Linked DNA regions of Homo sapiens: all the other regions are reported to be linked to region 3. Evidence: microRNA targets listed by miRTarBase, many of them from high-throughput screens and not tested one by one. Region 3 holds a microRNA gene; each other region holds the end of a gene's coding sequence. Distances are between the middles of the regions.

The links. The annotated mature microRNA hsa-miR-3672 reads AUGAGACUCAUGUAAAACAUCUU and lies in region 3 at 3,156-3,178, opposite strand. An mRNA with a match to its seed (bases 2 to 7 or 8) in the 3' UTR can be bound and repressed. Matches are read on the target gene's strand: a 7mer-m8 pairs with bases 2 to 8, a 7mer-A1 pairs with bases 2 to 7 and ends in A, and an 8mer does both.
Region 1: the mRNA of NFKBID is a reported target of hsa-miR-3672. The part of its 3' UTR that is shown has no 7-base or 8-base seed match.
Region 2: miRTarBase lists DDX53 as a target of hsa-miR-3672. Seed matches in the 3' UTR shown: 8mer at 832-839, 8mer at 1,022-1,029, 8mer at 1,207-1,214 and 8mer at 1,396-1,403.
Region 4: the mRNA of SMAGP is a reported target of hsa-miR-3672. Seed matches in the 3' UTR shown: 7mer-A1 at 2,109-2,115 and 8mer at 2,293-2,300.
Region 5: miRTarBase lists SPTLC2 as a target of hsa-miR-3672. Seed matches in the 3' UTR shown: 7mer-A1 at 4,080-4,086 and 7mer-A1 at 2,756-2,762.
Region 6: miRTarBase lists RBBP4 as a target of hsa-miR-3672. Seed matches in the 3' UTR shown: 7mer-A1 at 3,906-3,912, 7mer-A1 at 4,402-4,408 and 7mer-m8 at 4,801-4,807.

What each region holds. Positions count from the first base shown.
Region 1 is chr19:35,884,211-35,889,285 of GRCh38, forward strand. It overlaps NFKBID (NFKB inhibitor delta), which reads right to left. Exons shown (of 12, transcript NM_139239.5): 12 at 3,742-4,402. The coding sequence ends at 4,349. Among named protein-coding and RNA genes, the nearest start is that of NFKBID, 14 kb to the right of the region's middle.
Region 2 is chrX:23,001,287-23,006,361 of GRCh38, forward strand. It overlaps DDX53 (DEAD-box helicase 53), which reads left to right. Exons shown (of 1, transcript NM_182699.4): 1 at 1-2,303. The coding sequence ends at 667. All of the region lies in intron 3 of PTCHD1-AS (PTCHD1 and PHEX antisense RNA), which reads right to left. Among named protein-coding and RNA genes, the nearest start is that of DDX53, 3.9 kb to the left of the region's middle.
Region 3 is chrX:121,369,089-121,374,163 of GRCh38, reverse strand. It overlaps MIR3672 (microRNA 3672), which reads right to left and starts at 3,192; the gene lies at 3,111-3,192.
Region 4 is chr12:51,241,895-51,246,955 of GRCh38, reverse strand. SMAGP (small cell adhesion glycoprotein) reads left to right here. Exons shown (of 4, transcript NM_001031628.2): 3 at 125-205; 4 at 837-2,398. The coding sequence ends at 1,015. DAZAP2 (DAZ associated protein 2) reads right to left here. Exons shown (of 4, transcript NM_014764.4): 4 at 3,023-4,626. The coding sequence ends at 4,498. Among named protein-coding and RNA genes, the nearest start is that of DAZAP2, 5.6 kb to the right of the region's middle.
Region 5 is chr14:77,507,734-77,512,803 of GRCh38, forward strand. It overlaps SPTLC2 (serine palmitoyltransferase long chain base subunit 2), which reads right to left. Exons shown (of 12, transcript NM_004863.4): 12 at 1-4,670. The coding sequence ends at 4,551. Among named protein-coding and RNA genes, the nearest start is that of ISM2, 11 kb to the left of the region's middle.
Region 6 is chr1:32,678,859-32,683,933 of GRCh38, forward strand. RBBP4 (RB binding protein 4, chromatin remodeling factor) reads left to right here. Exons shown (of 12, transcript NM_005610.3): 12 at 782-5,075. The coding sequence ends at 847. SYNC (syncoilin, intermediate filament protein) reads right to left here. Exons shown (of 5, transcript NM_030786.3): 5 at 1,048-3,002. The coding sequence ends at 2,992. Among named protein-coding and RNA genes, the nearest start is that of SYNC, 21 kb to the right of the region's middle.

The DNA.
Region 1 (5,075 bases), not on the chromosome of region 3:
GAGACAGGATTTCACCATGCTGCCCACGCTGTTCTCAAACTCCTGAGCTCAAGCTATCCTCCCATCCTGGCCTCCCAAAATGCTGGGATTACAGGTGTGAGCCAGTGTGCCCTGCCCAAGATGGCCATCCTCTTACTGCATCTTCATATGGCAGAGAGTAGAGAGCAGAGAAGCAAGCTCTCTCCTGTCTCCTTCTTTTTTTTTTTTTTTTGAGATGGAGTTTCACTCTTGTTGCCCAGGATGGAGTGCAATGGCATGATCTCGGGTCACCGCAATCTCCACCTCCCAGGTTCAAGTGATTCTCCTGCCTCAGCCTCCTGAGTAGCTGGGATTACAGGCATGCACCACCATGCCTGGCTAATATGTATTTTTTAGTAGAGACGGGGTTTCTCCATGTTGGTCAGGCTGGTCTCGAACTCCAGACCTCAGATGATCCACCCGCCTCGGCCTCCCAAAGTGCTGGGATTACAGGCATGAGCCACCACGCCCGGACTCTCCCATCTCTTCTAACAAGGACATTAGTCCCATTCATGAGGGCTCCACCCTCATGACCTAACTACCTCCCAAAGGCCCATCTTCAAATACTACCCCACTGGGGCTTATGGTTTCAACAAATGAATTTTAGAGGGACACAAACATGCACTCCATAACAATACAAATTGAGATATACATCTTATATGTCAACAAAACCTCAGATGCCATCAGTGATAAAAAATAGCATTATTTTAGGTACCACAAAAGGAAAAAAAAGGCAAAATATAAACTATGTCACACAATTGACTATAAGATGATCCCAATTAAGTTCTTCTGTATTTTTTATTTTATTATTATTATTTATTTACTTACTTTAGAGACAGTGTCTTGCTGCCTCCCACGCTGGAGTGCAGTGCTGCAATCATGGTTCACTGCGGCATCAAACTCCTGGCCTCAAGTGATCCTCCTGCCTCAGCCTCCAAAGTAGCTGGGACTACAGGCACCCGCCACCATGCCCAGCTAATTTTTGTATTTTTAGTAGAGACAGGGTTTCACCATGTTGACCAGGCTGGTCTCCAACTCCTGACCTCAAGTAATCCGCCCTCCTTGGCCTCCCAAATTGCTGGGATTACAGGAGTGAGGCACCTCGCCCAGTCCCCAGATAACTCTGTCTCCCAATATTGAGACCCTTGTGTAATGCCTCCCACACTGATCTGGGATCAATGACATGTCAACAAGTATGATACAAGCAGGGACTTGTCTCCTTGGATCTCTCTTTCTTGGAACCACTGAGCCACCACCTGAAGTTAAGAGATCCACCTGCCCTCCTGGACTGCATGGAAAGACTCTTGGGCCACTCCTGGAAGCTCCATTATCTCAGCTGAGCTATCAGGCATGTGAGTGAAGGTGTTGTGGATTTCCAGGCCAGTTGGGCCTCAGGTTGATTGCAGCCACATGAGGAACCAAAGGGAGACAGCAGAACAGCCAGCTGAACCCGGCGTAGATTTCAGTCAGAAACAATTAAGAGGGGCTGGGCGCGGTAGCTCACACCTGTAATCCCAGCACTTTGGTAGGCCGAGGTGGGTGGATCACTTGAGGTCAGGAGTTCGAGACAAGCCTGGCCAACATGCTGGAACCCCAATCTCTACTAAACAAATACAAAAATTAGCTAGACGTGGTGGTGGGTGCCTGTAATCCCAGCTACTTGGGAGGCAGAGGCAGGAGAGTCGCTTGAACCTGGAAGGCGGAGGTTGCAGTGAGCAGAGATCGCGCCACTGCACTCCAATCTGGTGAGACTGAGACTCCTTCTCAAAAAAGAAAAAAGAAAAGAAATAATTAAAAGGGTGTTGGTTTAAGCCTTAAGTTTTGGGGTGGAGACATTGGCTGGAGCCCCGGAATGTGCTAACATGTACATTCGGTCTGTGGTCCATGAAAGGTTCCTAGCTATGGGGGCTGTGATGGGTCCAAGGGCTTTCTGGGATGGGGGCTCTTTGTGTGATTATATTGCAGAGGCCAGAGCAGAGGCTGTGGAGCGGGTATGAGAATGGGGTTTGGGTTTTTTTTTTTTTTTGAGACGGAATTTTGTTTTGTTGCCCAGGGTGGAGAAAAGTGGTGGGATTTTAGGTTAATGGAAGTTCCGCCTCCTGGATTTAAGGAATTTTCCTGCTTTAGCCTCCCAAGTAGGTGGGAAAACAGGTGCCCGCCACCATGCCTAGCTAATTTTTTTTTTTTTTGGTTTGTATTTTTAGTAGAGATAGGGTTTCACCGTGTTAGCCAGGATGGTCTCAATCTCCTGACCGCATGATCCGCCCGCCTCGGCCTCCCAAAATGCTGGGATTACAGGTGTGAGTCACTGCGCCTGGCCAATTTTTTTGTATTTTTAGTAGAGACAAGGTTTCATCATGTTGGCCAGGCTGGTCTCAAACTCCCGACCTCAGGTAGTCCACCCGCCTCCGCCTCCCAAAGTGCAGGGATTATAGGCATAAGCCACTGCGCCCAGCCTTGGGGGTTTTTTTGTATCTTTTTTTGAGACAGAGTCTTGCTCTGTCGCCCAGGTTGGAGTGCAGTGGCGCAATCTCAGCTCACTGCAACCTCTGCCTCCCAGGTTCAAGCGAGTCTCATGCTTCAGCCTTCTGAGTAGCTGGGATTACAGGCGCACGCCACCACGCCTGGCTAATTTTTGTATTTTTAGTAGAGATGGGTTTTTGCCATGTTGGCCAGGCTGGTCTCAAACTCCTGACCTCAGGTGATCTGCTCGCCTCGGCCTCACAAAGTGCTGCAATTTTAAGTGTGAGTCACTGCGCCTGGCTGAGAATGGGGTTTTGTGGAATTCTTAGTTTGGGTTTCTCCAAAAGCAGCTATGGAGGGAAGGATTGGAGGGAAAGTTCATTTGGAAGGGATGGAGAACATTGGTAGGGGAGACAGGAAGAGACACAGAGAAGAAAGAGCAGCCAATAAAGGGTATTTTATCAAGCCCAGACCACTGTGGGGAACTGGGGATTCATCTGCTGGGGAACTCTGGAGCCCGCATAGGCCATGCACTTCCAAGTTAGCCCAACAGACAGGTGGGGGACTATCTCCTATCAGTAACTGGCTGAGGGCTGCTGGAGTGGGAAGTGGACACGAACCCCCTGGCTTTCAACACTTGCCATGCTCATACCTGGGGCAGAGCCGCACCAGTGGTTTGAGATTGCCCAAAGGCAAATATTCTGGGGCTGACACCCAGGCTGGTCTCAAACTCCTGGCCTCAAGTGATCCTCACACCTTGGCCTCCTAAAGGCCAGTCCCTCTTGTGTCGCCAGGGTGAGGGTGACAGGATATGGACTTGGCACCCATGGTGGCTGCTACATCCTCCCCCCTCAGGCACATTCATCCCAATATGACCCCTCAGCGGGCATCACAGCCACTCCCCTGCACCAGTGCCCCCAGAGATCAGACAACAGTGGTTCTAGTCCAAATTGAGTTTAAATTTTTTTTTTTTTTTTTTTTTGAGACAGAGTCTCTCTTTGTCACCTAGGCTGGAGTGCAGTGGCACAATCTCGGCTCACTGCAACCTCCGCCTCCTGGGTTCAATCAATTCTTCTGCCTCAGCCTCCCAAGTAGCTGGGACTACAGGCGCATGCCACCATGTCCAGCCAATTGTTTTTGTATTTTTAGTGGAGACAGGGTTTCACCATGTTGGCCAGGCTGGTCTCAAACTCCTCACCTCAAGTGATCCGCCCGCCTCGGCCTCCCAGAGTGTTAGGATTACAGGCATGAGCCACCAAATCTGGCCCAAATTGAGTTTAATAAAGAGCTTGAGTGATGCTCAGATTAGGGAGGGAGTGACCGGGAATGCTGGGGTCTGGAACTGGGGGCCCAGCTGAGCTCTGAATCAGAGAGCAGTGAGACCTAAGGGTCCCTGATCTCAGAGGGTCCCTCCTGTCTCAGGGTGAGGACCTGAAGGGTGTGGGTCCCGGGGAGGGTGAGGAGGCCATTGTAGGAGATTTACTGAGATGGTATCGGGATGCCCCAAGCACCACGTAGGGGGATTACATCTGGGTTTCTGGGAACGAAGAGCTGAGTTAGGGGAGAGAACCCGAAAGATCTCAGTGGGGAAAGGACTAGGGGTGCAGGGTGTTTCACAGAAACAATCAAGGGGCCTCGATTTCACAGAAATCATCAAGAGGGCTCCTTGTGGGTAGAAGAGGGGTATCACAGCACCCCAAATATTGGGGCCTGTTCACCCCTCTGCAGCCATTCTGGGGTTTTAATGTAAAACCCCAATGGCAGGATATTCCACATACATTATCATGGGTTTGCAACATTAGCATACGCTGGCTGTCCCGCAGGACGGTGGGGACTGGAAAATCAGTCCAGGGTCTGGGTTTGAGTCCTAAGAGGACAGGCCTGGCGGCGCCACACGGCTCCTCTTCAACAGCTGCCGGAGCTGTAGACAAGGCAAAGGAGGGAGAGAAGTCTGTCAGGTTGGAAGGAGAGGTGGGGAAGGCACGCCATGCAGAGGGAGGGGCTAGAGAAGAGAGGTTGAGTGGGTCCCTTTGGATTTGAAGATCAGAGGTCCAGAGTCAAGATTTTGGAAGAGCCAGGTGCAGTGGCTCACGCCTGTAATCCCAGCACTTTGTGGGGCTAAGGTGGGCAAATCACCTGAGGTCAGGAGTTCAAGACCAGCCCAGCCAACATGGCGAAACCCCGCCTCTACCAGAGATACAAAAATTAGCCGGGCATGGTGGCACGTGTGCCTTTAGTCCCAGCTTGGGAGGCTGAGGTGGGAGAATCACTTGAACCTGGGAGGTGGAGCTTGCGGTGAGCTAAAATTGCACCACTGCACTCCAGCCTGGGTGACAAAGCAAGACTCCGCCTCCAAAAAAAAAAAAAAGATTTGGGAAGGAGGCCGGGAGTGATGGTTCCTGTGATCCCAACACTTTGGGAGGCCAAGGCGGGAGGATCAATTGAGGCCAGGAGTTTGAGATCAACCTGGACAACATAGTGTGACCCCATCTCTTAAAAAAAAAAAAAAACAAAATTAGCTGGGTGTGGTGGTGACTGCCTGTAGTACCAGCTACTGGAGAGGCTGAGGTGGGAGGATCCCTTGAGCCCAGGAG
Region 2 (5,075 bases), 98 Mb from region 3:
GCCAGATACTGTACGTCAACTAGCACTTTCTTATTTGAAAGATCCTATGATTGTTTATGTTGGTAATCTGAATCTAGTGGCTGTAAATACAGTGAAGCAAAATATAATTGTTACCACAGAAAAAGAAAAACGAGCTCTCACCCAAGAATTCGTAGAGAACATGTCACCCAACGACAAAGTCATCATGTTTGTCAGCCAAAAACATATTGCTGATGACTTGTCAAGCGACTTCAATATCCAAGGCATATCTGCAGAATCATTACATGGCAACAGTGAACAGAGTGATCAAGAGCGAGCAGTAGAGGACTTTAAAAGCGGAAACATAAAGATACTGATTACAACTGATATAGTATCCCGAGGTCTTGATCTTAATGATGTCACACATGTATATAATTATGATTTCCCAAGGAATATTGACGTATATGTACACAGAGTAGGGTACATTGGACGGACAGGAAAGACTGGCACATCAGTTACCCTCATCACTCAGAGAGATTCGAAAATGGCCGGTGAATTGATTAAAATTCTGGACAGAGCAAATCAGAGTGTTCCGGAAGATCTTGTAGTAATGGCTGAGCAATACAAGTTAAATCAACAAAAGAGGCACAGAGAAACACGATCAAGAAAACCTGGACAAAGACGCAAGGAGTTTTATTTTTTAAGTTGAAAAGTTGTACCAGGCTACTGGAAGATTCCAGGCATGTTAAAGATATGCAGTATTGAATATATGTAAGGAAGTATTGGAAACATACTAGCCATTTGAAGACATAACTAATTCTTAAATAATACTGCTAAACTTTCAATATTGTGTATGCTCCTTAATTTTAAAAAAGTCTCAAAAATGAGAGAGTGAGAGACTGTGTGAAGAGAAAGTGAATGTTACGTGTTGGTTAAAGTTTAATTTCTCTTAAAAATACTTTTATTTTAGGTTTGGGGGTATATGTGAAGGTTTGTTAAAGAAACACGTGCCATGGGGGTTTATCAACTTTCAATATTGTGTATGTTCCTTAATTTTAGAAAAAGTCTCAAAAATGAGAGAGAGACTATGTGAAGAGAAGGTAAATGTTATGTGTTGGTTAAAGTTTAATTTCTCCTAAAAATACTTTTATTTTAGGTTTGGGGGTATTTGTGAAGGTTTGTTAAAGAAACACGTGTCATGGGGGTTTATCAACTTTCAATATTGTGTATGCTCCTTAATTTTAAAAAAGTCTCAAAAATGAGAGAGTGAGAGACTATGTGAAGAGAAAGTAAATGTTACGTGTTGGTTAAAGTTTAATTTCTCTTAAAAATACTTTTATTTTAGGTTTGGGGGTATATGTGAAGGTTTGTTAAAGAAACACGTGTCATGGGGGTTTATCAACTTTCAATATTGTGTATGTTCCTTAATTTTAAAAAAGTCTCAAAAATGAGAGAGTGAGAGACTATGTGAAGAGAAAGTAAATGTTATGTGTTGGTTAAAGTTTAATTTCTCTTAAAAATACTTTTATTTTAGGTTTGGGGGTATATGTGAAGGTTTGTTAAAGAAACACGTGTCATGGGGGTTTACTGTACATATTATTTCGTCACCCAGGTATTAAGACCAGTGCCCAATAATTATCTTTTCTGCTCTTCTGCCTCCTTCCACCCTCCCCCATCAGCTAGACCCCAGTGTCTGCTGTTTCCTTCTTTGCGTTCATAAGTTCTCATCGTTTGCTTCCCACTTATAAGTGAGAACATGTGGTATTTGAGTTTCTGTTCTTGTGTTAATTTTATAGTCTACCATGTCCATTTGTCTTCTCTAAAACACTTGGTAGAAGACAACAATGGTGCTTTTCTGGCTTTAAAATAGTTGTACTAAATTGAAGCATAGCTTCAAGCTTATCCAGTCAAAGTATTCTCTTTTCCCCCGAGCAGTTGGTGCCACAACAGTTCTTAAAGTTATTTCCACTATCATTCTCTACTTGTTTTAGTTCATTAGAAAATAAGTGCTAAATTTTTTAGAAGATTCCACAATTCTATTTTTATCAGAATGATGTCACCAGCAGAGCAGGATGTCTGACTCACTGGGATTCAGGTCCTTGTATGCATTTTGTCACTAACCCTTGGTTAAAACTCTGAGGAAATCACTTGCCTTCTCTAGGCCTCAATTTCTCTACTCATAAAATGGGACAGTTTTATTAATTTAGAGGTCTCTTTTACCTCTAAAATTCGGTGACATTATAACTAAAACTGTATACCCCAGCCTTGTATTAACACTTTTTTGTCTAATCTAGGGGAAATTGCATCCTTGTATAATTGAATAAAACAATCCTTTTCAATGACAAGAATAGTGCATTCTGCATTTTTATTGATTTTGCAATTTAACTGGTAGGTTTTCATTTTATTCTTTGCTTTTCTTTTCATCATGCTTTATTTTAATTCAATTTGAAGGTCAAAACCATATATATATAGATACATATATCGGGGAAAAAATTAAAGTGAAAGAAAAATTTATCTACTGGGAAAAACATTAAAACCAATCAAATAAGGGCTGGGTGCGGTGGCTCACGCCTGTAATCCCAGCACTTTGGGAGGCCGAGGCGGGCGGATCGCCTGAGGTCAGGAGTTCAAGACCAGCCTGACCAACATGGAGAAACCCTGTCCCTACTACAAATACAAAATTAGCTGGGTGTGGTGGCGCATGCCTGTAATCCCAGCTACTCGGGAGGCTGAGGCAGGAGAATCAGTTGAACCCGGGAGGGAGAGGTTGCAGTGAGCTGAAATCGTGCCACTGCACTCCAGCCTGGGCAACAAGAGCAAAACTCTGTCTCAAAAAAAAAAAAACCAAAAAAAAAACCAAATGACGTTTTTGCCATAAGAACCAATTTTAGTAAAACTCTTCCTAATTTTATCTATAATTCTACCTCTTATGCCTTATTTAGAAGCAAGGTGCTTCTCACACCTGCAAAAAGAAATCCCTACAAAGATGTTAAGTAAACTTTAAAATTCAGTGTTCATGAAAACATTAGAATTAGTTAACATTTCTGGTAAAATCAAGAGAAAAATTAAGGCAACAAACTTTTTTCCCCAGCATGCCTTACCTGTGACTACAAATAAGTCAGAAAATAAGGGAAAGAAAGAAGTAAATGTTCTAGGTATAGGTATTTAAGGCTTAAAGTATAGACTTTAAAGGCTTTTTAAAATGTAGACCTTAATATCTCTGGATAAAATTAATAACAATGGTTAACATTGTTGAGTGATACATACCTGGCGCTTTATCTCCTAATCTCTAATATTTATAAGAACGCCACTCGGAAGGAAATCTTACCCCTATTTTGCAGGGGATGAAGCAAAGTCAGAGGAGCTAACTTGCCTAAGGGCCCTAAACCTGATTAAAGAGAAATTAAGTGATATTTAGAGGACTTAAGGGATATTTTGACCCGGCAGTGCCTGATTCCAATATTTATATTTTTTAATTTTAGTATAGTTATTATGTTTAAAGGCAATATGCTTGTCTTGAGGTTCTCTACAAGTTCAGATTTAGTGAAATAGAGAAGTGTGTGCAAATTTAATGCAAAGGCAATCTATAGCAGAACTGTAATAGAAGCTCAAATGGCTTAGTGCTGTTCACTCAAGAGGAGAAATGATAAATGTTTAGCAAGTTAGAGTATATGTTATTTTCCAGAATTATTCTTAGGGGCAATGCTATATTTGTTAGAAAAGAATGCAACAACTCAACCACTTGAGATAGTATATTTCCATAATCATGTGTAAGTAACACTTAACAAGAAAAATTATCACTCAATGTCTATGAGTAAGGAAATGAGAGATGTATGCATTTCTTCTACAACATAATGCTGGACAGAAGAACCAGTGTATAGAGAAAGATAAGTAGAAATAGTGCAATGACTGTTAACCAAGGGTGATTTTGCTCCCCAGCGGAACTTTGACAATATCTGTGGACAGTATTGGTTGTTACAGCTATGGGTAGGGGGTGAGGTGCTCCTAGCATCTAGTGGGTAGAGGCTGAACACCCTACAATCTACAGGACAGCCCCTCACAACAAAGAATTATCTGGCACAAAACAATAGTGCTGAGATGGGGAACCCCTGAGACAGCATAAGAAAAACAACCAAAACCAACTGCTTAGTAACCAAAAAGGCACGTCAAAGAAAAAAAAAAAATAGAGGGTTTCTAAGTTATATCTTGCGGGTTTTGCAGAGAAAAAGTATCCCTACAAACTTCCTGTCTTTGGTGTAGTCTACATCAGTGGTTCTCTACCAGGCCCAATTTTGTCAATGTCTGGAGAAAGATTTGGTGGGTTGTTGTCTTAGTCCATTTTCATACTGCTATGAAGAAATACCCAAGACTGGGTAATTTATAAAGAAAAAGAGGTTTAATGGACTCACAGTTCCACATGGCTGGGGAGGTCTCACAATTATGGTGGAAGGTGAAGGAGGACAAAAGGTGCATCTTACATGGTGAGCAGGCAAGAGAGTTTGTGTAGGGGAACTCTCATTTATAAACCATCAGATCTCATGAGACTATCATGAGAACAGTGTGGGAAAGACCCACCCTCATGATTCAATTACCTCCCACCAGGTCCCTCCCATGACATGTGGGAATTATGAGAGCTGCAATTCGAGATGAGATTTGGGTGGGGATGCAGCCAAACCATATAATTCTGTCCCTGGCCCCTCCCAAATCTCATGTCCTCACATTTCAAAACCAATCATGGCTTCCCAACTGTCTCTCAAAGTCTTAACTCATTTCAGCATTAACTCAAAAGTCCACAGTTCAAAGTTTCATCTGAGACAAGGCAAGTCCCTTCCACCTATGAGCCTATAAAATCAAAAGCAATTTAGTTACTTCCCAGACATAATGGAGGTACAGGCCTTGGGTAAATCTGCCCATTCCAAATGAGAGAAATTGCTTAAAACAAAAGAGCTACAGGCCCATGCAAGCGTGAAATCCAGCTGGGCAGTCAAATCTTAAAGCTCCAAAATGATCTCATTTGACTCCAGGTCTCACATCCAGGTCACGCTGATGCGAGAGGTGGGTTCCCATGGTCTTGGGCAGCTCTGTCCCTGTGGCTTTGCAGAGTATACCCCCTCTCC
Region 3 (5,075 bases):
ATTACCCACTCATGAAAGTACCTTCACAACAGTTAAGGAATCTATGTAAGTGATTGCAGCAACTGGGTGGAGCAATGAAATAAAATAAAATGCATTGAAAAGGGTATGTGGTGTGTGAGACAGTTACACAAATAACCACACCACCCCTCCCCAAAGCCCTCACAGTGTAGCATGGACAGACACATCCTCCACATGGAAGAATGACAGTGGATAAGCATTCACCTTATCTATAGACCCCAGCACCAGGCAAGCACCCATGGACCTAGGCTCTAGGGCCACCCCAATGCCAAGCTAGTTACCACAGCCACAGGCTCCGGGCCCATCTCTGTGGAACAAGGCTTCAGGCCCACCCAGTGTTGAGCCAGCCCAGACAGCATCAGGCTCCCAGCAGGCCCTCATGGACACAGACTGGCACCTGTGAACCCAGGCCCTAGGCCAACCTCAACACAAGGCAAGTTCCTGTGGCCCAAGGCTCTAGGCCAGCATCTGTGGACCCAGACTTCAGGCCAGCCCCTATGACCCAGGTCCAAACCAGACCCCACAGTCTCAGACTCCAGACATACTCTGGTGTCAGACTGGCTCCTGTGGACCCAAAACATAAGCACACCCCCACACAAAGCTGACCCTCCCCAACTCAGGCTCAAGTTCTACCTCCCTGCAAGGTTGAACCCCATGTACCCAGAGCCAGGCTCAACCCTATGAACCAGGACACCAGGCCTACCTGTACAGGCTTGAGCTCAAGGCCTGGCCCTGCAGATCCGTACACAAGGCCAGCTATAGTGAACCTAGGCACCAGGCCCTAAAACAAGGCCAGCCTGCCCAAGAACTCCAGACCCAAGTCCGAACACGGATTCCATCTGCTGACCCAACAAGACCCTCTAGCCAAGCTGACTGGTAAAGTCAGCTTCCCTGCCAAACCCAGTCTGTAAAGACTGAAAGAGGTGCCTACTTTTTCAAATGTGCAGATACCAACACAAAACTACAAGGATCATGAATAATCAAAGAAATATGACACCACCCAAGGAACAGAATAAAGTACCAGTAGCTGACCTTAAAAATAGAGATCTATGAAACGCCTGATAATTTTAAATAATGATCTTTAAAAGTTCAGGGAGGCCAGGCACGATGGCTCACGCCTGTAAACCCAACACTTTGAGAGGTCAATGCAGGAAGATTGCCTCAGCCCAGGAGTCCAAGGCCAGCCTGGGCAACGTGGTGAGACTGTCTCTACAAAATATTTAAAACTTAGGTGGCTCATGCCTGTAATACCAGCAATTTGGGAGGCCGAGGTGGGCAGATCACTTGAGGCCAGGAGTTTGAGACCAGCCTGGCCAACATGGTGAAATGCTGTCTCTACTAAAAACACAAAAATTAGCTGGTCGTGGAGGTGGGCGCCTGTAATCCCAGCTACTCGGGAGGCTGAGGCAGGAAAATTGCTTGAATCTGGGAGGCAGAGGTTGCAGTGAGTTAAGATCACACCACTGCACTCCAGCCTGGGGGACAGAGCAAGCCTCCATCTCAAAAAAATATAAATATATCCAGGCATTGTGGTACATGCCTATAGTCCCAGCTTCTTGTCCCAGCTACTTGGAAGGCTGAGGCAGGAGGATCACTTGAGCTCCAGAGGTTGAGGCTGAAGTGAGCTGTGTTCATGCCACTGCGCTCAAGCCTGGGTAACAGAATGAGACCCTGTCTCAAAAAAACAAAAAACAAAAACAAACAAAAACTACGAAGTACAAGATAGACAAACAACCAAACAAAATCAGGAAAACATTATATGAGCAGAACAACAAGTTCGACAAAGAGAAAAAAAAAAAAAAACATTAAAAAATAACCAAGCAGAAATCCTGGAGCTAAAGAACGCAACGATTCAATGACTGAACTGATATATTCCACAGATGTCTTCCTCAGCAGACTCAAACAAAAAAAGAATCAGTGAGTTCAAAGACAGCTTATTCAAAATTACTCAGTCAAAACAACAAAAGGAAATAAGAATAAAAAATTATGAAGAAAGTATACAGAATTTATGAGACACAATCAGATGGACCAATATACACATTATTTGAGGCCCAACAGAATAGAGACAAGAGGGGCAGAAAATTTCTTTAAGTAAATAATGACAGAAAAATTCTCATATCTGAAGGAAGTGAACATCTAGATCCACGAAGGTAAAGAGCCCCAAATATATTAAACATAAAGACACCTCTTCAAGATACATAATAAGCACATTCTCAAAATTCAAAGACAAAGAGAGAATTTTGAGAGCAGCAAAAGAAAACAGGCTTGTCACATACAAACCAACTTCCACTGGAGTATCAGAGGATTTTGCAGCAGAAGTCCTGCAGGCTAAAAGAGTAGGATGACATATACAAAGTGATAAAATAATAAAACTGCTAATCAGTAGTTCTTTATCTGGCAAAGTTGCCCTTCAGATATGCAGTAGAGATAAAGACTGTCCCAGACAAAGAAAAGCTAGGGGGATTAAACACCCCTAGACCTGCCTTACAAGAAATGCTAAAGAAAGGCCTGCAAGTTGAAAAGAAAGGACACTAACAACAAAAAGAGAGAAAAGTAGAAAACTCCCAAAAAACAAACATAGTCAAATTAAGAATACTCTAATGTGGCCAGGCGCAGTGGCTCACGCCTGTAAACCCAGCACTTTGGGAGGCCAAGGCAGGCAGATCACGAGATCAGGAGTTCGAGACCAGCCTGGCCAACATAGTGAAACCCCATCTCTATTAAAAACACAAAAATTAGCCAGGCATGGTGGTCCACACCTGTAGTCCCCGCTACTCGGGAGGCTGAGGTAGGAGAATCGCTTGAAACCAGGAGGCAGAGGTTGCAGTGAGCCAAGACAGCGCCACTGCACTCCAGCCTGACTCCGTTAAAAAAAAAAAAAAAAACTCTTACGTTATGATGTGGTACATAAATCATGTTTGACTCTAGCACAAAAGTCAAAAGAAAAAGGTATGAAAATAACTATAATAACTTTTTAGTATACACAATATAAATGATATGAAGTGTGGCATCAATAACATAAAATGGGGGGAAGAAAAAGTTGAAGTGTAAGGTTGTTTTAACATGTTCAAAGTTATCAGCTTTAATAGTAATCTTTGTGATTATCATGAGACTCATAAAACATCTTGTAATAGTCTAAGATGTTTTACATGAGTCTCATGGTAATCACAAAGAAAAAAATGTGTAGTAAATACACAAAAGATAAAAAAAGAAATCAATGCATACCATTACAGAAATAAATCACAAAGGTACACAGAAATAGAGGAAGAAAGACATAGAGGAATGACAAAATGTCAGAAAGCAATTAACAAAATGGCAATAATAAACACTTAACCTATTAATAAGTTATTTAAATATAAATGAATTAAATTTACCAATAAAAAAACAGAGTGACTAAATCGATTTTAAAATTAGAATCCAACTATATGCTAAGTAAGAAGACTCACTTTACTTTTAAGAACACAGAGAGGATGAAAGTGAAGAAATGGAAAAAGATATTCCATGCAAATAGTAACTAAAAGAGAGCTTAGTTGGCTACATTTATTTTACTTACATCAGAAAAAAACCAGACTTTAAGTCAAAAACTGTCACAATAGACAAAGAAAGTCATTATATCATGATAAAGGGGTAAATTCATCAACAAGATGTAACAAATGTAAATACATCTATGTATGCAATATTGGAGCACCTAAATATAATATATAAGGTATTTATTAACAGAACTGAAGGGAGAAATAGACAGCAATAAAATAACAGTCCACTTCAATACCCGATGTTCAACAATGGACAGATTATCCAAAGAGAAAATGAGTAAGAAAACAAGTGGCTTGAACAACACTATAGACCAAATGGACCTAACAGACATATACAGAACATTCTATTCAACAGCATCAGAACATGTAGTCTTTTTAAGCGTATAAAGAAAATATTCCATGACAGAGAATATGTAAGGCCAAAAAACAAGTCTAACAAATTTGAGATGATTGAAAATATATCATATATATATTTCACTTCAATTTATTTATTGTGCTAATAATTTTTAATTTTTAAAATAAATTATTGTGGGTACATAGTAGGTATATATATTTGTGAGGTACACAAGATGTTCTGATATAGGCATGCAATGCGTACCAATCACATCATGGAGAATAAGGAATCCATCCCCTCAAGCACTTATCCTTTGTTTTACAATCCAATTGCACCTTTTTGTTATTTTTAAATGTATAATTAAGTTATTATTGAGTATAGTAACCCTGTTGTACTGTCAAATGTAGATCTTATGTTCTTTCTATGTTTTTGTACCCATTCTTTCTATGTTTTTGTACCCATTAACCATCCCCACATTCCCTTCCTGGTCCTCTGCTACTACCCTTCCCAGCTTCTGGCAACCATCCTTCTACTCTCTATGTCCATGAGTTCAATTGTTTTGATTTTTAGACCCCACAAATAAATTAGAACATGTGATGTTTGTCTCTCTGTGCCTGGCTCATTTCACTTAACATAAAGATCTCCAGTTCCATCCATTTTGATCTTTTTAATGACTAAATAATACTCCATTGTGTACAGGTACAACATTTTCTTTATCCATTAATCTGTTGATGGACGCTTAAGTTGCTTCCAAATCTTGGCTATTGGGAACAGTGTTTCAACAAACATGGGAGTGCAGATACTTATTTCCTTTCTTTGGGTATATGCTCCACAGTGGGATTGTTGGATCCTCCAAAATGTTCTCTATAGTAGTTGTACTATTTTACATTCTCACCAACAGAGTGGGAGTCTTCCCTTTTCTCCACATCCTCGCCAGCATTTGTTAGTGGCTGACTTTTGGATATAAGCCATTTTAATTGAGGTGAGATGATATCATATGGGAGTTTCAATGTGCATTTCTCTGATAATCAATGATGTTGAGCACATTTTCATATGCCTGTTTGCATTTGTATGTCTCCTTTTGAGAAATGTCTATTAAAATTTTCTTGCACATTTTTGATCAAATTAATATCCTTTTTTTCTACAGAATTTGAGTTTCTTATATATTCTGGTTACCAACACCTTGTCAG
Region 4 (5,061 bases), not on the chromosome of region 3:
AGGAGTTAAATGATAAACTTTTGAATAGGGAAGAAGGTGGGGTGGTGAAATTTGAAGGCCAAACATATGCTTTCAAACAAAAGAATTCACTCCATTTCCTTTTCCACTTTTCTACATTTTCCAGAAGAACTGATGACCACCCCAATTTTACAGCCCACTGAGGCCCTGTCCCCAGAAGATGGAGCCAGCACAGCACTCATTGCAGGTAATAGACTCTGAGCCAACTCCAAGGGACCTTCTGGATCAAGGGCATCTCTCTCCAGAGGGAGCCTGACCAAATCCATTAATGGGCTCACTCTGGCTTGTAAGTTATATTACACACACACACACACACACACACACACACACACAGCCATAAAAGACTCGGAGGCTTCTGTCAGAGGCACTACCAGTAAATGACAGGTTGGGAGGTGGCCGCAAATAGATATGCATACGGACGTTACACTTGAGTACGTGGGTAGGGACGAGGATATATGTGGTTGGTTGAGTGGGTGAGGAAGAGGGGGAGGATCAGATAAACCACTTCCTGTTAGGATAAGCCATTTCCTGTTCCCTCCTTCCCGTTTCTTTAAGAATCAGGAACTGGTTTGGGAGGCAGTTCAGTTTTGTCAGAAATCAAAAGCATGTGTCCTTAGCTTAAGCACCAGGAGACTCCAGCTATTATGTGCCATGGAAATTGGGGTTGGTGGGGGAACATGGGTTTGGATGGAAGTGGACACTAGTTAATGAAAACAAGAGGATCTTTACGAAAACAGTGACTAAATCAGATGACTCCAGGAACTACTGAGACATCCTCAATCCTGAAACATCTCTACATTTTCCCTCTCCTTTCCAAGTTGTTATCACCGTTGTCTTCCTCACCCTGCTCTCGGTCGTGATCTTGATCTTCTTTTACCTGTACAAGAACAAAGGCAGCTACGTCACCTATGAACCTACAGAAGGTGAGCCCAGTGCCATCGTCCAGATGGAGAGTGACTTGGCCAAGGGCAGCGAGAAAGAGGAATATTTCATCTAATGACTCCCAGGCCCCAAGGAGCTTATTCCTGGCTCCATCGCTAACACGTTGACTGCTTATTATGGGAAAGTTTTCTCTGAAGCCAGGGAGAAGCATTGATTGATGTGGGCAAATCCAAGCTCCAGCCAGGTCGCAGTCCCAAATGCCGACATCACTGACTCCAGGGACCAGGGACATGGAGAAAGCTGTTTATGATATCTTTAACCAGGCCCTCTTACTAGAGCTGGTGTTTGTGACTGGCCAACAAGATGTGGCTATGCCAGGGGACATCTGAGTATGTGCCCAGTCATCTTTTTTCACAGGTTGAAGGGAGAGAAAAGATTTTGAGTTAAGGTCATTGGCTGCTCTACTCTGTCCCCTACCTGGTCACCTAGTGATAGCCCCAGTGGAGATACTGTCCATACAAGGTCTTCCCAGAGGCTGGATACCACAGTAAAAGGCCAGGCCAGGAGGGGTAGGAGACTATGGAGATCTTACCTCCTGATAAATGTGCTACACCCCCTAATCTGAGCCCTTCCTTTCCGTGTTCCCCAACAACCTCATGCTTACGTGATTTTTATTCAAATTAAAAATTTTCATTGCTACAGAAATCAGATTCTCATGTGCAAGAAGTAACTACATTTTGACTTATTTTTGCTTAAACATTTTTGACATTTTCTTTTCCCTATTTAACGCCTTTACATATGTTCTCTTCCAAGCAATAAGAACCCTAGGAAAGTTCTAGAAGTTTGCAGAACTATCTCAGGGATTTGAGACAAAGATGGTGCAGGAAAGCTTGTTCCAGGGGAACATCATTAGAAACATACCCTGGGAGGGCCGGGTTCGGTGGCTCACGCCTGTGATCCCAGCACTTTGGGAGGCCGAGGCAGGCGGATCACAAGGTTAGGAGATCGAGACCATCCTGGCTAACACGGTGAAACCCCGTCTCTACTAAAAATATATAAAAAAAATAGCTGGGCGTGGTGGCGGGCGCCCATAGTCCCAGCTGCTTGGGAGGCTGAGGCAGGAGAATGGCTTGAACCCAGGAGGCGGAGCTTGCAGTGAGCTGAGATTGCACCACTATACTCCAGCCTGGGCAACAGAGTGAGACTCCGTCTCAAAAAAAAAAAAAAAAAAAAAAGTACCCTGGGAGATGAGTTGGTTCAAGCCTCCATCCTGGCAAGGGCCAGAATTTCCCAGAATCCCTTCTACATATATACAGAAGGAACCAGAAAAAATCAACCTACCACCTTTCCCAGTGTATCCTCAGAATCAAGCCAAGAAGCTTCTTGGATTTTAGTCTCAAGATAAGTTGTGTTTAAAAGGCACATTTTGGTATAAATTATTAGCTCATCAGATATTGTTCACTTTGGAATTAAAGCTAGATCTCCTTTGAAGTCTTAATGTATTGCCTCTGTTGTCCAAGCTCAAACCCAACCAAGTTAAGATCAAGAGCTGAGGAATCTGGCTGGGTGCAGTGACTCACTGCCTGTTATCCCAATACTTTGGGAGGCTGAGGCAGACAGATCACTTGAGGTCAGGAGTTTGAGACCAGCGTGGCCAACGCAGTGAAGCCGTCTCTACTAAAAGTACAGAAATGAACCAGGTGTTGTAGCAGGTGCCTGTAATCCCAGCTACTCAGGAGGCTGAGACAGGAGAATCACTTGAACCCGGGAGGTGGAGGTTGCAGTGAGCAGACACTGCCACTGCACTCCAGCCCGGGTGACAGAGGGAGACCCTGTCTCAAAAAATAAATAAAAGAGCTGAGGAATCTATCTTGGCAACCTAGATTCTATGAGTTTTCAGTATTTCTCCACATAGAACATTGGAGAAACTAAAGGTCATCCTCAACGTATACAAATTGCTATACCAGAACCTTTTCTTCAAGCCAAACTTTAGAGCAAGTTAGGAGAATCAATAGTTCCCTCATTTCTAAGTTTAGGTCCGAAATTCCAAAATTTGTAAGAGGTTGGAGTAAAATGATGAAAAGTTGAACATCTGGAATGGAATTCATGAAATGATCAAGTCTTAGGCTTGTACTCCTGCCTTTATTTCAAAGCGTCATCAAAGGAAACAGAGCAGCAGCAGCACCTAGCTGAATTCTAGATGGGATATAAATAAAATATATATAGAAGAAATCTAAAAACAAGCTAAGTAAAGAATCCTTGCAGTGAGGTGTAATGCAACTTCATCACTTTATTCAAATCTTCAAAATAGTCTTTATTCTACATTTTTAGTATAAAAATTCCACAAGTTAAGTGCACCACAGTGTAGAGAGAGACATACAACGCTGAACTTCCATAACAGTCAATGGTACAGTCAAACATCACATGTACAGAACACACAATTTAGATGAACTGAAATTATAAGATAAAATAAAATAAAATCCAATTTCAGAAAACAAAAATCAAAACATTAAGGATCCCTGAAATATTCTTAAACCCTAATGAGATTTCACTGGACTCAAGTCATTTTGTAGTGAGACATTCACAATATGACCCTATTAACCCAGTCTAGGAATTCTGGGGAGCCGAATGAGTGGCCGCATCAGACACTCTGACAAAAAATGGTAACCAGTTTTTGATCTGAAAACTCCTCTTAATTTAGCTCTGAACACATCAATCAAGCTTTTGAAATGCATCCTCCTCCTTGCCCCTCATATTTTAAACCAACTGTTGTTCACAGTACAGTTTGCACGACATCTTTGTTCAAACATAGCTCAGTTTTTCTGGCACCAAAGCAAATTTGGGTTAGGTTCGTGTATGCAGAGACAACCTATGAGGAGGGCCCATAAGGCACCCTCCACTTTTGCCTGAGGAGATACGAAAGCAGAAGTAATGGCATCTGTACTTGGGGCACAGAGAGGGTTTCAGAGGATCCTTGTGAAACACTAGTTAAAAGATGACGAGTGGGGAGAAGTGCGAGGAAAGAAGGAAATTAGTCTGACTGGCTTTCTGTCCTGCACCATTGATTCAATGGAGACTGGCGGGAGGAAATGGAAGACTAGGGTTGGAGATGGGATGGGTGGGGCAAGGGATGGAAAGGAAAAGGCAGACAACTAATGCGTTCCATTTATAACAAGTAATATATATCAAAGACTTAAAGGAGATTAAAGACCAATCAGAATAATTTGGCAACTTTAATTCTTAGGAAGATCAAAGTTCCCTCCAAACCTAATTTGATGTTTTATTACTAAAAGCAAAGACCAGTATGGTACAGTATTACTCCAGAGAAATTAAAGGAAAATCCTTAGGGCGGCTTCACCCACATTCATTTTATGAATGGATACCTCCCCTACCTCAAAATGCTTTAGGGAGGTACTGCTACCATTACATGGTTCCTTATTAAATTTGAAAAGTGCCTGAAAGTTTGGGCACCAGAAAGACACCCCAACAACATGTGTCTAAACTGCAACTTCAGGTTAATATGACTAAAGCAGTTACATTGTGAGAAGTGCTGAAGGTATGTGATGTCTTTCCCGGCACAGAGGTGGCCTTGGTTCCTCACCAGATGGTGTAGCCACCATCTGAACCACCCATGAAGAAGTTCCCCTTCCGCTGAGTTACGAGGACGTTGGCTCCCTGCATGACTGCAAGCTGAGCAGCATTGGGAGGGCATCCAGGAGGTGGAGGCTGAAAGGAAATGACATGATAGAATGGGCACAGGGCAGCTAATATAAGCGAAGGGGACATAGGGGAAGCAGAGGCCTGTTAGGATGAGGCAATGTGCTAACCAGCTGCGTTTTAAGGAGCTAGTTCCGCCACCAATTTGAGTTCTAAAGTAGGTCTATACTTTATGTGAACCCAAAGATACAAACAGGAAAGGGAGCCTACCACTCATTCAAAGGGTTCCAGCTCTAAGATGAAGCCTATGGCTACCTTCTGAACATGAACAGACCAGACCAACAGTCATTTTGAGGGTAGAGAACCACTGTCCTACTCACATTCCCAAAACAGGGACAGGGTGCCAGTCCATGTATGAATCCCACATGGTCCCTACATAGTTTTTAATTTTTAATTTTTTTTTTTTTTAATTTTTTTGAGATAGAGTCTTGCTCTTGTCGCCCA
Region 5 (5,070 bases), not on the chromosome of region 3:
TGGGCACTGAGCATCCACGTGAAGCAAGTAGCAGGGTATCTGTAGGTTCTGGGACTGAAAAAAAAAATCCCTGTAAGTTCTTGGCTTAGTAGCCAAAAAATAATCTTTGCTTTTTATACCTCCCCATTCACAACCCCTTTGGGCTAAGCTGATTTAAAAAACATTTTTTTCTTAGATGGGGTCTTGCTGTGTTGCCCAGGCTACGCTCAAATTCTTGGGTTTAAGCAATCCTCCGGCCTCAGCCTCTCAAGTAGCTGGGATTGCAGGCTGCATCCGCACCCAGCTCCTAACAATTTTTTTTCCCCCTCTTATTGAGCCAGGGTCTCACTCTGTCACCCAGGCTGGAGTGCAGGGGTGCAATCATGGCTCACTGCAGCCTTGACCTCCCAGGCTCAAGTGATTCTCCCACACAGGTGGGACTACAGGCAGGCACCACCATGCCCGGTTAATTTAGAAAAAAATTTTTGTAGAGACAGGGTCTATCTTGCCCTGGCTGTCCTAACAATTCATAATCTTCATGAATGTGGACAGTTTGAAGGAAAACCACTACTCTCACCTCTTTTTCTAAGCACACGGTTATAGCAAGTAGAGATTAAAGCTCATTGGCTTACCTAGAACACCAAGAGAGGAAAGATACCTTGGGAATTAGGTCATAGCAATGCTTCAAACAACAACTGCCCATAACCCTACAAATCCTTGCAAAACAACAGTTACTCACATTCTTTCTTCACGGCCTACGGCATGACTGGCAGTTCTGCACTGTTGCCCAATCCCGGATCACTAGGAACCAGAAATCCTTATCAATTTGGAAAAAGGGGAAAAACATAAAAGTAGTGGTAAATGTCATCACTTTTTTCCTCCCTGAGAAATCAGGAAATCTCTCCATGGAAGCCACTCATCCCCCTGGTTTTCACCAATAAGAAGGAAGCAAAGTGTATAACACACTAGAAAATTCAGCTAGGCTGAACTAGTTGAGAAATTTAGATGCAGGCTCCCTTAGGTAATGAAGAAATTTGAAAAAAAATTTTTTTTAAAAGCCAAAGGAGCTAGCTTAAGCCCCTAATGAAAAGCCTCCTCCTGAAATGTAAGGCTAAGTGTACAAACAGAACCAAGGCGTCTGATATGCTATCTTCAAAGCCCAGCACCACCATATATTGGTTTTCTCTAGAGTTGGAATTTTAAAAATCAAGAACTTGAAGGTACAGAAAGAAAGAAAGGCCAAATAAAGGAAGAAGGCATTACGGAGACAAATCACTGGAAGCATGTTCAACTCCTTGGTGTTTGAAGAGGCATGACACAAACATAGAGCCCTTAGTGGTTGTGTAGGATGCTTCTGTTCACCTTGATGACTACAGAAGCAAGAATCCTGTTTTAAAATCCTTGCCCTATCATGAATGTTTACGATAGTGACTAAAGCACTACGATGGCTGGATTCTTCAAACAAATAAGCAGTACTTTGGGGGTTATGGAGACTAGAAGCTTTTTTTAAAGGTAAGGATTTCTTATCCAAAGCAAAGCAAAAAGTTGAAAAAGTGCTATAAAGTCCATGCCCCTGCTAAGTTAAAGCTTAAAAAAAAAAAGATGCGAGGAGAAACCGCCACTGCTGCTTGGTCCACTCCTCATATGGGCTTTTGACATCTCCTAGCTATGCATTTCCTGGCTTCTGATGTGATCTGCTGAAAGAGGTCTTATAAACCTGAAATAGGTAACAGCAATGCTGAATAAAAAGAGGAATGAGAAAAAGTGCTAAGGACTAGTCACACCTCTATCAATCGACTCAGATGATCAGTTTTGGTAGTCATGGTTAACCGGTATCTGTTTGAATCCTATCAGAGTCTTGAATCAGGCCGTGTTAAACTGTGTAAGAAACTACTCTTGTATGCCTCAAATCGACTTATTCTCAATGACTGTATTTATATATACTTGTATTCCTCCAAGTACTTGGATAAATGATGATACCTAGGATATGACTGGACCCTAGATTTACATTACAGTTTCAAGAAGAGACAACCAACCATGTATAATGTCTACATAACATTTTGTTCTTTAGAAAGTACAGAGGTCCTGCATAGATCACAGGAGATTTGTCTCTTCAAAATAAACTTGTAACAAAATTACACTTATCTTGAAATAACTTTGTACCAACAAAGTGATATAGATATATTTTAAATGCCGGTACTGACATTTGAATTTGCAGTGACTTCATGCAAGCCAAAATAAAAAGACTAGCAGGTAAGTTCATTGCTTATAAGTTTGTGACTTTTACAAACCCTACGTTTACATTAGTAAATAGTAACTGCAGTGCAAAAGCTATGTGGTATTCCAGTGGGATTCTATGGTAGGAAACTAGATGTGCAGAAAAGGTTGACAATGTATTTGATTTTATAGGACTCCTATTTAGTTACCACAACCTCCTTCTTACTTTAACCTATACATGCTAAATATAGTCTCTGCATCTCTCCTTGGTTCTTTCATTCATCTTTTTCTGTTCTTTAAAAAAGTAAAATAAAACTTTGGAATATCTCAAGGGCTTATTAAAGTTCTCAGATGCTGACAGTGACTAAACATAACTCATACTCAAGACATTAAAAACAAAACTTCACAAACAATAATATTGCTTACATCCTCTGCTATACGTAATGTGCACAAACATATCACAGCTGATGACAACACACCCAGGAGAATTTGGATTGAGAATCTTTACCGATAAAAGGAGCAATTTCAAAAACTTAAATGTGTAACATGACTTTTTTTTTTGAGACACAGTTTTGCTCTGTCACCCAGGCTAGAGTGCAGTGGCACAATCTCGTCTCACTGCAACCTCCGCCTCCTGGGTTCAAGCGATTCTCCTGCCTCAGCCTACCAAGTAGGTGGGATTATAGGTGCCCGCCACCACGCCCAGCTAATTTTTTGTCTTTTTAGTAGAGACGGGGTTTCACCATGTTGGCCAGGCTGGTCTTGAATTCCTGACCTCAAGTGAGCCACCTGCCTCAGCCTCCCAAAGTGCTAGGATTACAGGTGTGAGCCACCGCACTCGGCCTGTAACATGACTTTCATACACTGTTTTTCCATTCTGTTCCCAATCCTTCTCCTGTAATACTTGATGGATACAAAAAGACAAACTGATCCTGGGTATAATATGCCAAAAGTCCTCTTCACTTAAACTTTGGTTCAACTGAAAAAATAACTTTAAAATGGTGATTTTCAGATTTGTTCTTTGGTCAGGCAGTATAAAGCTCTCTGAAAGAAGTCCCTTTACCTGGTTATAGTATGAAAACAGTCAAAATAGAAAATGTCAGTTTAGGAAAGAGATCTATGTGTTCAGAATTTCTCAGAAAAAAATAAAAAATATGTAGACAGGCAGACCCTAGCCCCAGATGCCAGATTCAATTGACTTAGGACATCAAGAATAAAAGAGAACTAGCATTCAGAAGAGTAATATTTAAGTGGGTTAGCTTCTAAGAGGCCTAAATTAATAAACCTAATCCTTAAATAGGAACATGATAAATGCTTTCTGAGCAGAGGATTTACCAACAGTTTCCTTTATCAGTTTAAATCCTAATCTGGACCCAGACCTAGCCAGAGACTGTCATAATTTTCAAACGTAGAAAGCAGTAGGAAATGCAAGCCACAGGCTCTGCAAGGAGTAATCAATTCTTTGCACACTGCCACTGCCCCTGCCCCTCACCCACCAGGAGTGCACATCACTCTACGGAGCAGCTTTGTACCCAACACTCAGATGTGAGAGTGGCCTTCTCACCAGGGTGGGATATGGGTGCTCTGAAAACAGTAAGTGCTTTAAAAAGGGGGTGGGACGTGTTACGGTTAGAGCTTGGGAAGAACCAGAATTTGCGCACATCCTCAGACTGTGACCATTATGAAGAAGTATTTGATGGTAAAGGAAGAAATCATCTGGTGACCAGAAGAAAATGGAATAAGACCAAACCCTTGGGAGATTACACAATGAGCCTTTCAGCAGTCATCGCTTACTGTTTTTCTTAAAAGGCTAAACTTAAGATTAAAGGGTGAAAACTTCCGTTGATTACTTGAATGGTTAAATAAGGATTCCAAGGTTGGCCTTGAGACCTCTGAGACCTGGATGGGAAGTAAGTGGAAGGCACTTGCTCCCTAGGGAGGAGGGCCAGGTAAGTATCCAGGCTGCGGAGCCAGGGCCAGCAGTAGCTCTTGATGGGCCCAAGTCTGCAAGGTGCTGGGAGAGGGGAATGGCCTGTGTGGTTAGCCAGAGACAGGCTAGGGTCAGCGTGATTTCACAAGTAGAATGGTTGCAAAATAAAATGTTTTTTTAATGGACTGAAAAAGCAAAGTGAGTCACCTTCGTTTTTAAAGGTGAGATTTAGCAAAGGAAGGATTAGAAGCAGTTTTTTACTATTTACAAAATGTCATTTAGAGTGGAGGTGGCCACCTTCAGTAGCTGAGGCAATGTCTTTCACGTGAGATGGCCACAGAAGTGTGGTTCCTGGAACTGGCTCACAAAGGCCACAGGCTGTCCTGGGTGAGGGAGAGTTCCTCTGAGGGAGCACCAAAAAGGCTCAGTCTTCTGTTTCTTCATACGTCGTCTCGTCAAAGGGCCTGTCCAGTAGAGGTACCAACCGATGACGGGAATACTTCAGCTGCAATAGGTCCCCAACTTCATCTATCTCCTTTAAAGCCTAAAATACACAAGACAAAGTAGAGGTCTGTCAGAGCCAGTAGGATGCAGGCATGCCTGGTGTTTTACTTTGCTAAAAACAATCATGGCAAGATTATCCTTCGGCAGGACTTATGTCTAGTGCATTTACAAGATCAGACTACAATACAGCTGTGGAAGGAGCTGCTTTTTGAACAAGGCCTTCAAGCTCACCATGAATAATGGGTTGTGAATAGCCAGGTATGCAGAATAAAGGCTATAATTCAAAGTATGATATGCTTGGTAGAAAAAGTTATATGCACTCTGAACTTACAAAACCGAATACAATTTGTCATCTCTCCCTTTTGTTTTTGAGATGGAGTATCGCTCTGTTGCTCAGGCTGGAGTGCTGTGGCGCCCTCCGAGCTCACTGCAACCTCCAC
Region 6 (5,075 bases), not on the chromosome of region 3:
GATTACAGGTATGAGCCACCACACCTGGCCTGACTGGCTTTTTTATGCCAAATAATATTCCATCATATGGATTGGATATACCGTGTATCCATTTTAGTAGTTGATGGATATTTGGGTTGTTTTTACTTTTTGGCTATTATTAATAATGTCTGGTTAGGCTGGGCACAATGGCTTACTCCTATAATCCTAGCACTTTGAGAGGCCGAGGTGGGCAGATCACCTGAGATCAGGAGTTCGAGACCAGCCTGGCCAACATGGTGAAACCCCATCTCTATTAAAAATACAAAAATTAGCCAGGCGTAGTGGCATGTGCCTGTAATCCTAGCTACTCTGGAGGCTGAGGCAGGAGAATTGCTTGAACCTGGGAGGCATAGGTTGCAGTGAGCCGAGATGGTGCCACTGCACTCCAGCCTGGGAGACAGAGCAAGGCTCCATCTCAAAAGGAAAGAAAAATAATAATGCCTGGTTAAAGAACTCAAGAATGTTGGCTATCAAGACAAATAGTATCCACACTGCAGTTTTGTGGGAATGTCCTAATCAGGCGTCTGGGGATCAGCTGCTTATTTTTATTGGAACATGATCATGCTAATTAATATTTCATTACCCATTATAGGTTGTCTCCGGATACTTTCATCCAAGAGTTGAATAGTTGTAACACAGATTGTGTGGCCCAAAAGCTATAAAGTATTTACTCTCTGGCTTCCTGGCCTAATCTGTTGTTGAAACCTTGAGTTTTAGAAGAAGTCTTCATGTTTAAATTCTTTTTCTTGTTTTTGGGCAGGCAGAGAACATTTATAATGATGAAGACCCTGAAGGAAGCGTGGATCCAGAAGGACAAGGGTCCTAGATATGTCTTTACTTGTTGTGATTTTAGACTCCCCTTTTTTCTTCTCAACCCTGAGAGTGATTTAACACTGGTTTTGAGACAGACTTTATTCAGCTATCCCTCTATATAATAGGTACCACCGATAATGCTATTAGCCCAAACCGTGGGTGTTTTCTAAATATTAATAGGGGGGCTTGATTCAACAAAGCCACAGACTTAACGTTGAAATTTTCTTCAGGAATTTTCTAGTAACCCAGGTCTAAAGTAGCTACAGAAAGGGGAATATTATGTGTGATTATTTTTCTTCTTATGCTATATCCCCAAGTTTTTCAGACTCATTTAAGTAAAGGCTAGAGTGAGTAAGGAATAGAGCCAAATGAGGTAGGTGTCTGAGCCATGAAGTATAAATACTGAAAGATGTCACTTTTATTCAGGAAATAGGGGGAGATTCAAGTCATATAGATTCCTACTCGAAAATCTTGACACCTGACTTTCCAGGATGCACATTTTCATACGTAGACCAGTTTCCTCTTGGTTTCTTCAGTTAAGTCAAAACAACACGTTCCTCTTTCCCCATATATTCATATATTTTTGCTCGTTAGTGTATTTCTTGAGCTGTTTTCATGTTGTTTATTTCCTGTCTGTGAAATGGTGTTTTTTTTTTTGTTGTTGGTTTTTTTTTTTTTTTTTTTAACTTGGGACCACCAAGTTGTAAAGATGTATGTTTTTACCTGACAGTTATACCACAGGTAGACTGTCAAGTTGAGAAGAGTGAATCAATAACTTGTATTTGTTTTAAAAATTAAATTAATCCTTGATAAGAGTTGCTTTTTTTTTTTAGGAGTTAGTCCTTGACCACTAGTTTGATGCCATCTCCATTTTGGGTGACCTGTTTCACCAGCAGGCCTGTTACTCTCCATGACTAACTGTGTAAGTGCTTAAAATGGAATAAATTGCTTTTCTACATAACCCCATGCTGATGGGTTTTATTTAGTATAAAACATCCATCAAACACCAGTCTCTGGCTTCTAGAAGAGTCCTTCAGATGACAGTTGTTGTCCATGGTCTTTGACTATCAAGAGCAGAATTAAATGTAATAGTCCCAGAGCTGTAGAAAAGAACTTTACTCCTTCCCAGGGAAAGTGAAAGACATAAAACACTGAATCAGAGGTGGCACAGATTAGTCTTTGATAAGGTAACGTTTCTTTGAAGTCTATCTGTAGAGAACTACATGGACTTCCAAGAGTGTCAAAGGCAGTGTGGTAGAGAGAATTTAAGGCAAGATTTAAATTTGGAAAAGGTGCTTGAACCTTTTCTCAGAGGTTTTATTTCCCCAGTATGTTTTTCACTGGGGCCTTTACTTAGGTTAGAAATAATAGGCTTTGAAGGCCTCTATCACCAGATGCAATAACCAGATAAAATTCCTGTTTTTTCCCAATCGCTTAGTTTTTTGTTGTTGTTGTTTTTTAACTGAGTAGATCATTCTGACCCAGAACTACTTTCATGAGGTAAGATCTTTGGGAAAATCTGAATAGCGTTAACCATTAGATTCAAATCTCAAATGGTTTCTTTTCAAGTCTAGTTGTTTTAGAGTATAGTGAGAAATACCTTGACACAATTTTAAGAGTAAACTATATGGGTCAGCATATCCTTGAACAAAAAGTAGACTTTGTAAAAGTATTCATTTAAATTCTAACACTCGTGGCACAAAAGAATGGAAATTGTAAACCCATGTAATGGAAATTGGCTATCTTTTTGACCCCACATGTGCCCCTCAAAAATGTTTTTGGTTTGGGTCAACACAAGGCAAGATACATTCTTTAAAATACTCCCAGATGTGTCCATACATTCATCCTTCACTCAGTGCATATGTGAGGGTTGTTGCTGGAAGACAGGAGGCTCATCTTTCCTTTCCTTGGTGCATTGAGATCAGTATCAACAGCAGATGAAATAGAATCCAGCAAAGAGTTGACATGTTCTGCCTCCGGCCAACTCTAGAATCTTTTTAAGCAGGTCAGCCAGTATTTGCAACTTCCACAGGATGAATTGCTTGCCAAGTTTCTGGCACTCTTGTCTGGTTGGAAGAGTACATCCAAAGGGTACTTAGTGATCCTTTGCTAAGAAGTTTTTTGCTGTTTCCGGGTTACAGATTTGGCCATATATTTCTAAACAGCCCCTGTAAAGTTGAAAGAAAAAGTTTATAACAGTGAACTTCTGAGGTTTAGTTACTGCAGGCTTTGTTGAGAAGAGATTGTTACAGTGTGATTTATGGATGATCAGGGATGACTTTCCCCTAGCAAATATTTGGATGCCTCCTGTTTGTCAAATAGAATGAATGGTGATGGTGATGGGAGGGATAGTTAAACGTTTTCTCTGCTAGGTTAACTTCTTACAGGTATAATTACAATGCCTGAAATTCTGTAGTTTCATTTCTTTGGATTAGTCGTTGTCTTTTCCAGATTGTACACAATCTGATCAACACAAAGGTAGTTAGTAGATCATTAACCTCAATTGCAAGGTTATAATTTCTCAAACATTAAGCATATTATCAGTCATGTGGATTCAAACACAGTATAAGAAAATCCTCAAGGCTGGGTGTGATGGCTTATGCCTGTAATCCCAGCTACTTAGCAGGCTGAGGCAGGAGTATTGTTTGAACCCAGGAGGCAGAGTTGCAGTGAGCCAAGATCGTGCCACTACTCCAGCCTGGGCAAAATAGCAAGACCCGACCCCCCATCTCTACTAAAAAGAAATTTAAAAAAATAAAATCCTAGAAAATTAGAAAAAGCAACAATAGTTACTTGTGGGCCAGGCGCGGTGGTTCACGCCTGTAATCCCAGCACTTTGAGAGGCTGAGGCACGTGGATCACAAGGTCAGGAGTTCAAGACCAGCCTGGCCAAGATGGTGAAACCCCGTTTCTACTAAAAATACAAAAACTAGCTGGCCGTGGTGGCATGCTCCTGTAGTCCCAGCTACTCAGGAGGCTGAGGCAGGAAAATCACTTGAACCCAGGAGGTGGAGGTTGCAGTGAACTGAGACCGTGCCACTGCACTCCAGCCTGGGTGGCAGAGCGAGACTGTCTCAAAAAAAAAAGAAAGTTGTGAATTTGATGTAAGCTTAGGAAATGAATAAAATTTATAGGCATCTGTATAATGTACAACTTGACACGGACTTTCTTTTATCCTTAGTTTCTTTCACGGACTCTAGAACTTTTATCAGAATATACTGGTAAAACATTGGGGGAGGGATCCTGAGTAGGTGATTGGTCAGAAAGATGCCTTCAGTTTTGTCAGTGTCTAAAAGTTAAGTCTGTTTAGGCCAAGCATGGTGGCTCACACCTGAAATCCCAGCACTCTGGGAGGCCGAGGCAAGTGGATCACAAGGTCAGGAGATGAGACCATCTTAGCCAACATGGTGAAACCCCGTCTCTACTAAAATACAAAAAAATTAGCCAGGCGTGGTGGTGCGTGCCTATAATCCCAGCTACTTGGGAGGCTGAGGCAGGGGAATCGCTTGAACCCGGGAGGCAGAGGTCACGCCACTGCACTCCAGCCTGGCAACAGAGCAAGACTCCGTCTCAAAAAAAAAAAAAAAAAAAAAGAGTAAGTCTGTGTAACATGAACATCTCTGCTTCCACCCAAAACCACAGCCTTTGAATATTATATAAGGAACTTAATGGATAGATATGTTTATTATTTTTGATAGCACAACTGCTTTCTCTGCTATTATAAGGAAAACTGAGAATAGCAGGTGGGTAGGGTAGGATGAGGAAACAAGATGCCCAAAGCCTAGATGCCACAGAATTCATGGTGATAATCAGGGCATATTTTGAGTCCTACTAGAAACAAACATTCCAAATGAACTCTGAATGCCTGACTCAGGCGTTTTGGAGGTTTGGGTTATCCCCTTGTCATTAGGCACACAAGGGTTTTTTGTTGTTTTTGTTTTTTGGGTTTTTGTTTTGTTTTGAGGCAGTCTCACTCTGTTGTACAAGCTGGAGTGCTGTATTGTGATCTTGACTCACTGCAACCTCTGCCTCCTGGTTCAAGCGATTCTCCTGCCTTGGCCTCCTGAGTAGCTGGGATTATAAGTGCCTGCCACTATGCCCGGCTAATTTTTGTATTTTTAGTGGAGATGGAGTTTTGCCATGTTGGCCAGGCTGGTCTTGAACTCCTGACTCCAGGTGATCCACCCTCCTCAGCCTCCCAAAGTGCTAGGATTACAGGCGTGAGCCACCCCGTCCGGCCT